Linked DNA regions of Homo sapiens. The protein of the gene in region 1 interacts with the protein of each later gene in a pairwise test. Each region holds a gene or a part of one and is shown on either strand. Other genes may lie near its edges. The genes, in order: MAPK8IP3 and BTG3.

Region 1 (3,823 bases):
CTCCTGACTTCAAGCAATCCACCCGCCTCGGCCTCCCAAAGTGCTGGGATTACGGGCATGAGCCACTGTGCCCGGCCTCAGTTTCTTCATCTATAAATGGGGACACTGGCAGGAGGGCGGCTTGATGCTGCAGTAAGGACCGACGGTGGCCGTGCCCGTCAGTGCTGCCACCCACGGAAATGACACCGCCCACAATGAGAAGGGCAGCTGCGACCTGACACTGTGTGTTCTGCGTACACATGTGTCATACCTCTGTGGGCCATGGGCCATGGTGTCTGGTAGGTGTCACCAAGACATTAAAACAATCGGCCAGGAGTGGTGGCTCACGCCTGTAATCCCAGCACTCTGGGAGGCCGAGGCGGGTGGATCACAAGGTCAGGAGATCAAAACCAGCCTGACCAACACTGTGAAACCCCATCTCTACTAAAAATACAAAAATTACCTGGGCATGGTGGTGCATGCCTGTAATCACAGCTACTCACGAGGCTGAGGCAGGAGAATTGCTTCAACCCGGGAAGGCAGAGGTTGCAGTGAGCCGAGATCGCACCACTGCACTCCAGCCTGGCCCACAAAGTGGGACTCCGTCTCAAAAAAAAAAAAAATCATTATAGCATGGTGGGGAGGTTCCCTCTGGTTTTTACTCTCTTCTTGGCATTTGCTGATATTATTTAAATATTATTATAAGCATATATAATTTTTTCAAAAAATAAAAAAAATAGCTAAAAAATATACATTATCGGCCGGGCATGGTGGCTCACACTTGTAATCCCAGTACTTTGGGAGCCTGAGGCGGGTGGATCACCGGAGGTCAGGAGTTCAAGACCAGCCTGGCAAATATTGTGAAACCCCGTCTGCACTAAAAATACAAAAATTAGCCGGGCGTGGTGGCGCGTGCCTCTAATTCCAGCTACTTGGGAGGCGGAGACAGGAGAATTGCTTGAACCTGGGAGGCGGAGGTTGCAGTGAGCCAAGATGGCGCCACTGCATTCCAGCCTGGCGACAGAGCGGGACTTTGTCTAAGAAATAAATAAATAAATAAATAAATAAACATTATCTGAATTATGTAGAGTGGAAGGATAGCAAAATATTAAAAGAGATTACCCCTATTTAGCAGGATTTTTCTGAAGATTAATCTCCTTTGGATTTTTTATATATATTTTTGCAACACATGAGAAAAGTTCCACAGAAAATTCACAGCACCAAAGTGCGCCCTCACCGCCGTCCTGATCTCGGGGAGCATTCCATCTTTCACCACCAAGTACAGTGTGTCCAACACTACTGAACTGAACACTTCAACTCGGTTAACATGGTGAATATTATGTTACTCATACATGGCCTCTACTGGGGCACTTTCTGACTCAAGCCAGGATGAGACAGGCCTCCCTGTCAGGGTGAGGCCCTGCTGGTGCTCAGCACCCCACATTACTCTGCTCCCTGGAGGTCCCCCTGCCCCAGATAAGACAATCAGCTCAGGAGTACACCAGGAGGCAGCCTGGGATCCAGGAGCTTCTCACCCTGCGGGCTGGGGGAAGCAAGGCCATGGCGAAAGGCTCGGACCCTGACGCGTGCAAGGGGACAGACTGCGCTGTCCTACTGCCCGCCTGTCATGCCTGAAAGCCTGGGGCTCAGAGCCACATGGCCAGTGCTCAGCTGCCAGCAGATGCCATGAGCACAGGAGACTCCACGTGCTGACAGGAAGCAGGTCCTGATGTTTGCAGCCGCCACAGACCTAGGCACAGGGGTCCGGTGTAGACCTGTGGCGCTGAGGTGAAGCCAGGGCTGTCTGCGGAGGAGTGGGCAAGTGGGCACCCTCCCAACCTCCTCCAAAGTCAATGGTCCTAGGGTGTGCGGCGAGGCTAATGGGCACAGAGCAGAGAAGCGGGCACCCTCCCAACCTCCTGGAGAGTTGGCAGCCCTGAGGGTGTGTGCAGAAGATGGGGCGAGGCTAACAGGCATGGATTTCTTTTAGGGATGGCGGAACATTCTAAACTGAGATCATGGGGGTGGCTGCCCCACCTGTGAGTACGCTGTAACCCACCGCACCGTGCACTCGAAGCGGGTGAATTTTATGATACAGTCGACCCTCAATACCCACGAGTTCTGCATGTGTGGATTCAACCAGCCTCACAGAAAATGTACAGGCCTGTGGTGGCCGTGTCTGTACTGACGTGTACACTTTTTTCCTGTCATTATTCCCTAAACGACACAGCATAACAGCAACTACTTACACAGCATCTACAACATAACCTAGAGGTGATTTAGAGTACACGGGAGGGTGCAAACACTACACCACTTCAGAGCAGGGACTTGAGAAGCCTCAGATTTTGGCATCCTTGGGGCAGTCCAGAAACCAATCCCCTGTGGAGATGGAGGGACAATTCCATGTGAAACGCAACTCAACAAAGCTGGAAAAAAAAAGGTTCCTAGCTCACAGCTGACAGAGGACTTTCCTTTCATTACAAACAAAACCAACAGCAGAAAGCCCCAGCATTGTGCAGGCACAGCGGTGCGGGGGAAGGCTTGCGCTTACCTAGGAGGTCGGCCCCTTCGTCCACATCCCCGATGACCTCAGACCCTGCCGTCGACAGCTCATGGTACAGGGAGTCGGTGTTGATGCCGAAAGCTTTGTTCACGATGCCCTGGGTTGGGCTGTTGGGATCCACAGGTCGGGAGAGAGAGCAGAGTCAGTGGGCAGCCCGGAGTGGCTGCGTCTGCAGACTCTTCCAACACCTCCCACCGTGGCCATTCAATGCCCACACTGCCCTGCAGGCCGGTCGTGGATGGAGGCGGTAGGCCACAGCCTTGATGGTTCTCCCAGTGGTGGCAGAGGAAGACTTCACCAAAGACACCGACTTGGATAAATACTGAGCCCCCAGGACCCCAGGGCCTGGGCTGAGCCAGTACCTGCTTCCTGTGCGGTCCAGGCGGGTCTCTGGACACATGTCCAGCTCTGGCGTGGAGTCAATAATGTCTTGAACATCAGACCACTCGTCACTGCTGCCCATGCCTAGGGGAGAGCACAGGGGCACCTGGGGTCAGGAGAGGGTCTGGCAGCCTCTGCCCTGCTCACGGCTGCCCTCGGAACCTGAGTCTGGTGGGCTGGAGCTGGACCACCTGCTAGGTGGGGATGATCAGAAAACAGCTCTTCCCAGGCTGACTGGGCAGAGGTCGAACCCCAGCACAGTAGACGTCTGAGGCGGGGCCTGGAGCGGGGTGGGTTGCAGCAGCCTCTCTGCATGGGAGTGTCAGCAGTAAGCCCAGTCCCCAGAGATCCCACGTCCAAGCAAGCCAGTGGCTGGACCTCCTCTCGGCCCTCATTCCCCTCTTCTCTTTCCCTCACTGGCCTGTGTGCCGTGGGGCAACGCAGGTTACTGGTTAGTGGGGCTGTGTGCCATGGGGTGACGTAGGCTACTGGTTAGTGGGACTGTGTGCCGTGGGGCGATGCAGGTTACTGGTTAGTGGGGCTGTGTGCCGTGGGGCGATGCAGGTTACTGGTTAGTGGGGCTGTGTGCCGTGGGGCGATGCAGGTTACTGGTTAGTGGGGCTGTGTGCCGTGGGGTGACGCAGGCTACTGCCTTAGTTGTGTCTCCCCAAATCCATATGTTAATAGATACCCCCTAGCATGACTGTATTTGGAGGCTGGGCCTTTCAAGAGGTGATTATGGTAAAATGAGGTCACGTGGTGGCTCTAATCCAATGGGGCTATGTCCTTGTAGGAGCTGGAGATGAGGACACAGACACACCCAGGGGATGCCTGTTGAGGACACAGGGAGAAGGTGGTGTCTACAAGCCAAGGAGTGGCCGCAGGAGGAACCTACCCTGC
Region 2 (3,823 bases), on another chromosome or scaffold:
TAGATAGTATAGCAATGACTATAAATTAAATGGTCTCCTAGTAATGGGACATTGAGGCTGTTTTCAGTCTCTTACTATTAAAAAAACAATGATACACAACGAACAAAACAATGCTGCAATGAATAACAGCACAGTTAATTCTAATAGAAGGCTTTATAGGCATATTTTCGTTTCTTTTGGTAAATATTTAATACTTAGGAGTGGAACTGCTGAGTAATAGAAGAGTTACACATTTAACGTTAAAAAGTTCCAGTTTTCCAAAGTAGTGGTACTATTTTACATGACTAGCAAGTTTATGAATCTAGCTGCTTCACATCCTTGCTAACATTTCATGCTGTCAGGCTTTTAAATTGTGCAGTTCTGGAAGAACTAGTGTTTCATATGGATTTAATCTGCATTCCTCTGATCATAAATGAGGCCATTCACATAACTCCTTTTGTAAAGTGTTTATTCACATCTTTTGCTCCTCCTGCCCTTTTTTTGAGATTACAGCAGGATATGCCCATTATTTTTCATTGAATCATTTACCTTTTACTAGTGATTTGTGAGCGATTTTAAAAAAAGTATATTCTGGAAATAAGTCCTTTACAGATATATGTAATGAGAATATTTTGTCCTAGTCTATGGTTTGCCCATTTTCTTAATGGTTTCTTTGATGAACAAAAAGATGATTAATTTTGATGAAGTCCAGTTTGTCAATTTTTTTCCCTTATTAGTTACTTTTTGTGACCCTCTAGAGGAAATATTTGCCTGTCACAAAATAAAGATTATATTTCCCTATGTTTTCTTCTAAAAGCGTCAGAGATTTATCTTTTATGTCTAGGTACACAATCCATCTCAAATCAATATTTTTGTGTATGGTGTCAGCTAAGTTAGGTTCGTTTTTTTTCCTACACAGATCATCCAGTTGTTTCAGCACAAGTTCTTGAAGACTTTCCCCATTGAATTGCTTTGGCACTTTTGTTAAAAGGGAGAAAAAAGACTAACTGTATGTATGTGGGTCTACTTCTGGACTCTCTATCCTGTGCCATCAATATATTTGTATGTTTTTAAACCATTACCACACTGTCTTGATGAATATATAATAGCTTTGAATTAGTGTGAGCCCTCCAACTGATCCTCCTTTTTTAAAATTTTGAATCAATTTGTCACTTTCCAGAAAAAAACCTTTTAAGATGTTCATTGATACTGAATTGGATCTACAGATCTATTTCAGGAGAACTGACACAATCTTCATTTCTTCGTTTTTTAAGATATGAATAATTCTTTATCCCCTCTCTTGGGATACCTTTTAGAAAACAGTAGAGAACAAAAATTCCAAGCTAGAAATTTTGTTGTCCTTATTTGATAAAACTTTTTTAAAGCTTGTGGCAATGCCAGATTCAAGATACTAGAAAGAAGAAAATCAAAGTGGGCCATTTGCACTAGCTTTCACACAAGTAGTGTTTCTCTATTATAAAATGTTTTGCTAATGAGTATTAGGCCAAGGAGAAATGTTTTCCTTAAAAAGCACGTAAGAGACACCTCAATTTCCATACCTTTCTGTTATCCTAATAGTCTTTCAACATGAGGGAAAATAAATGCAATTTAATTTTAAAAGAAATCCTAAAAATTAAAGGTTAATTTGCTTGTAAAAAATTAGCAGCAATCAATTTAATTTGAGACTTACATTCTTGCTTAACAACAAATAAAATTCTGAGGTAAAATTGCCACACATTTGGATGAATTCCAGAAAATTCAATATACCTAATTTGCAATATATAATCCATCACACAGAGAAAAAAAATGCCTCAAATATTTATGGCAAGGTTTTTAAAAATGATCCTGAAGTACAAATACTATGTTTACTTATTTATATAGGGAATGTCTCTGGAAGGATACTAAAAAAAAGAAAAAAAAACCTGGTAATGAATGTCTCTGTGGAAATGCATAGGGACTGGTGGTTGGGGAGAAAGAGGACTTCTCACTATTATACTGTCTTGTACTGTTTGAAGTTTCATAAAGCCAGGTACATGTTATATACATATACATATACATACACATATACATAGAATCCTAAATTATGATAATCTTCAGAAATAATCTTCCCCTAAAGTCTAGGAAGAATAATTCAACTGAGAAAAAAATGAGAAAACCAAAAATTAAGTTACACTGAAATAATGTTCATTATGTAAATGTATGCTGAATTTAAAAGTTTAGTTTATCATACTAAAAGCTCCAATATTCTGCTTCTTACTCATTAGGTCTAAATTTTCATTTTCAGCTCAACCTTACCACAAACCTGGTATGTTTCACATTTAATCAAAGCAAGTAAGTAAAAATAGATAACCTTTAAAAATTAGTAATAAGTACATTTACAGAATAAGGCTCAACTCAAAAAATCTCTTTAAATTGTTATGACTTTAAAATATCTTTCCTGTTGAAGAATGCTGTTTGGTCAACAATTTTTTAAAGTCGATTAAATGTTCTTTGGTATGTAGATATAAATAGTAAATCAGTGAATGGATCTGTAAGTGCAGGCACACTAGCTATATGACTTTTCAACTAGTAAAGCAAAAAGGGAGACAATGTTTCAGCTTGAGTAAAATATTAATTATAATATAATAAATTTAGAGAGGTTTCTCTTTAATCATGGAACGGGAGAGAATAGAAAGTTAAACCCAAAGGTACAAAACAAAGTGTTACATACTACAAAAAATAAGTGGTAACTTTTGAATGAGATTTTAAAATATCAGGAATGTTTTACCATCATGAATTTTCTACTTTTTGCCAATTTTTCTGAAATATATTTATCCTAGTTATTGTATAGTGAAGCTGACCTTTGATAAAATGACTCAGGATGCCTATTTACGTGCCAGAGAAACAGCTTTCCCTTAGCATGGGGAAAGGCAAGAACTATTATCCAGAATCTCAAGTCAGAAACCTTGGGCAATGCCAAGTAGGACTACCTGAAAGGTCCTGGCAATCCCTGCACATCCCTTTAAAACTGAGCTGTTTTCATGGTTACCTGGTACACAGGACTTGCGGCTGCAGTCACCGAACTGGGTTTCACTTCCATTTCCTTACTTGTTTCTTCATCTGAAGAAGAGGATCCTGAATGATAATCAGAGGTAACCTTATCAAGGGCCCTGGTAACTTTCCTGGAGATCTCATCCTTGTTCTCATCTTTATTTTCAAAGCTGGCAACAATGAATGCATTGTTTTTCTCTCCATACCTAAGAATAAAATTAAAAACTTACAAATCTTGAAGTCACATCAGCAAAGCAAAAAATGTCCATAAAAACAAAGAGATCTGGACATGCCATCAATACAAGGCAAAGATTGAATCATCACAGAACTTGACCCTACACATTTAATATCCTAATACAGCTCAATGCCAGCAAGCAAACCACAGTTTTCTACTTCTGGTCTATTTAAGTATTCATAAACATAACCCCATTTTCTTTCCCTTATTTTCTTTCTACTAATTCCTAAAAAAAAAATTGTTTAAAACATCAAAAAAAGTCCATTGTTTTGATTACATTTTTGTATGTACCAATGAAATTGGTTGTACAATAAAACATTCTGATGTATTTTTATTTTTTTGAGATGGGTTTCACTCTGTTGCCCAGGCTGGAGTGCAGTGGCACAATCACAACTCACTGCAGACTCTACCTCCTGGGCTCAGGTGATCGATCCTCCAACTTCAAACCTCCCAAGAGGCTGGGACTACAGGAGTGTACCACCATGCTCAGCTAATTTATATACATTTTTAGAGACAGGGTTTCACCATGTTGCTGAGGCTGGTCCCAAACTCCTAGGCTCAAGAGATCCACCCACTTCA

The links.
Region 2: the proteins of MAPK8IP3 (region 1) and BTG3 interact in a two-hybrid assay, tested with the Homo sapiens proteins (one large-scale study listed by BioGRID and IntAct).

Annotation. Positions count from the first base shown.
Region 1 is NC_000016.10:1,747,428-1,751,250, reverse strand, and holds part of MAPK8IP3 (C-Jun-amino-terminal kinase-interacting protein 3), read right to left. Parts: intron 3,008-3,823; coding exon 2,905-3,007; intron 2,650-2,904; coding exon 2,531-2,649; intron 1-2,530.
Region 2 is NC_000021.9:17,595,610-17,599,432, forward strand, and holds part of BTG3 (protein BTG3), read right to left. Parts: intron 3,216-3,823; coding exon 3,008-3,215; intron 1-3,007. UniProt on the Homo sapiens protein: Overexpression impairs serum-induced cell cycle progression from the G0/G1 to S phase.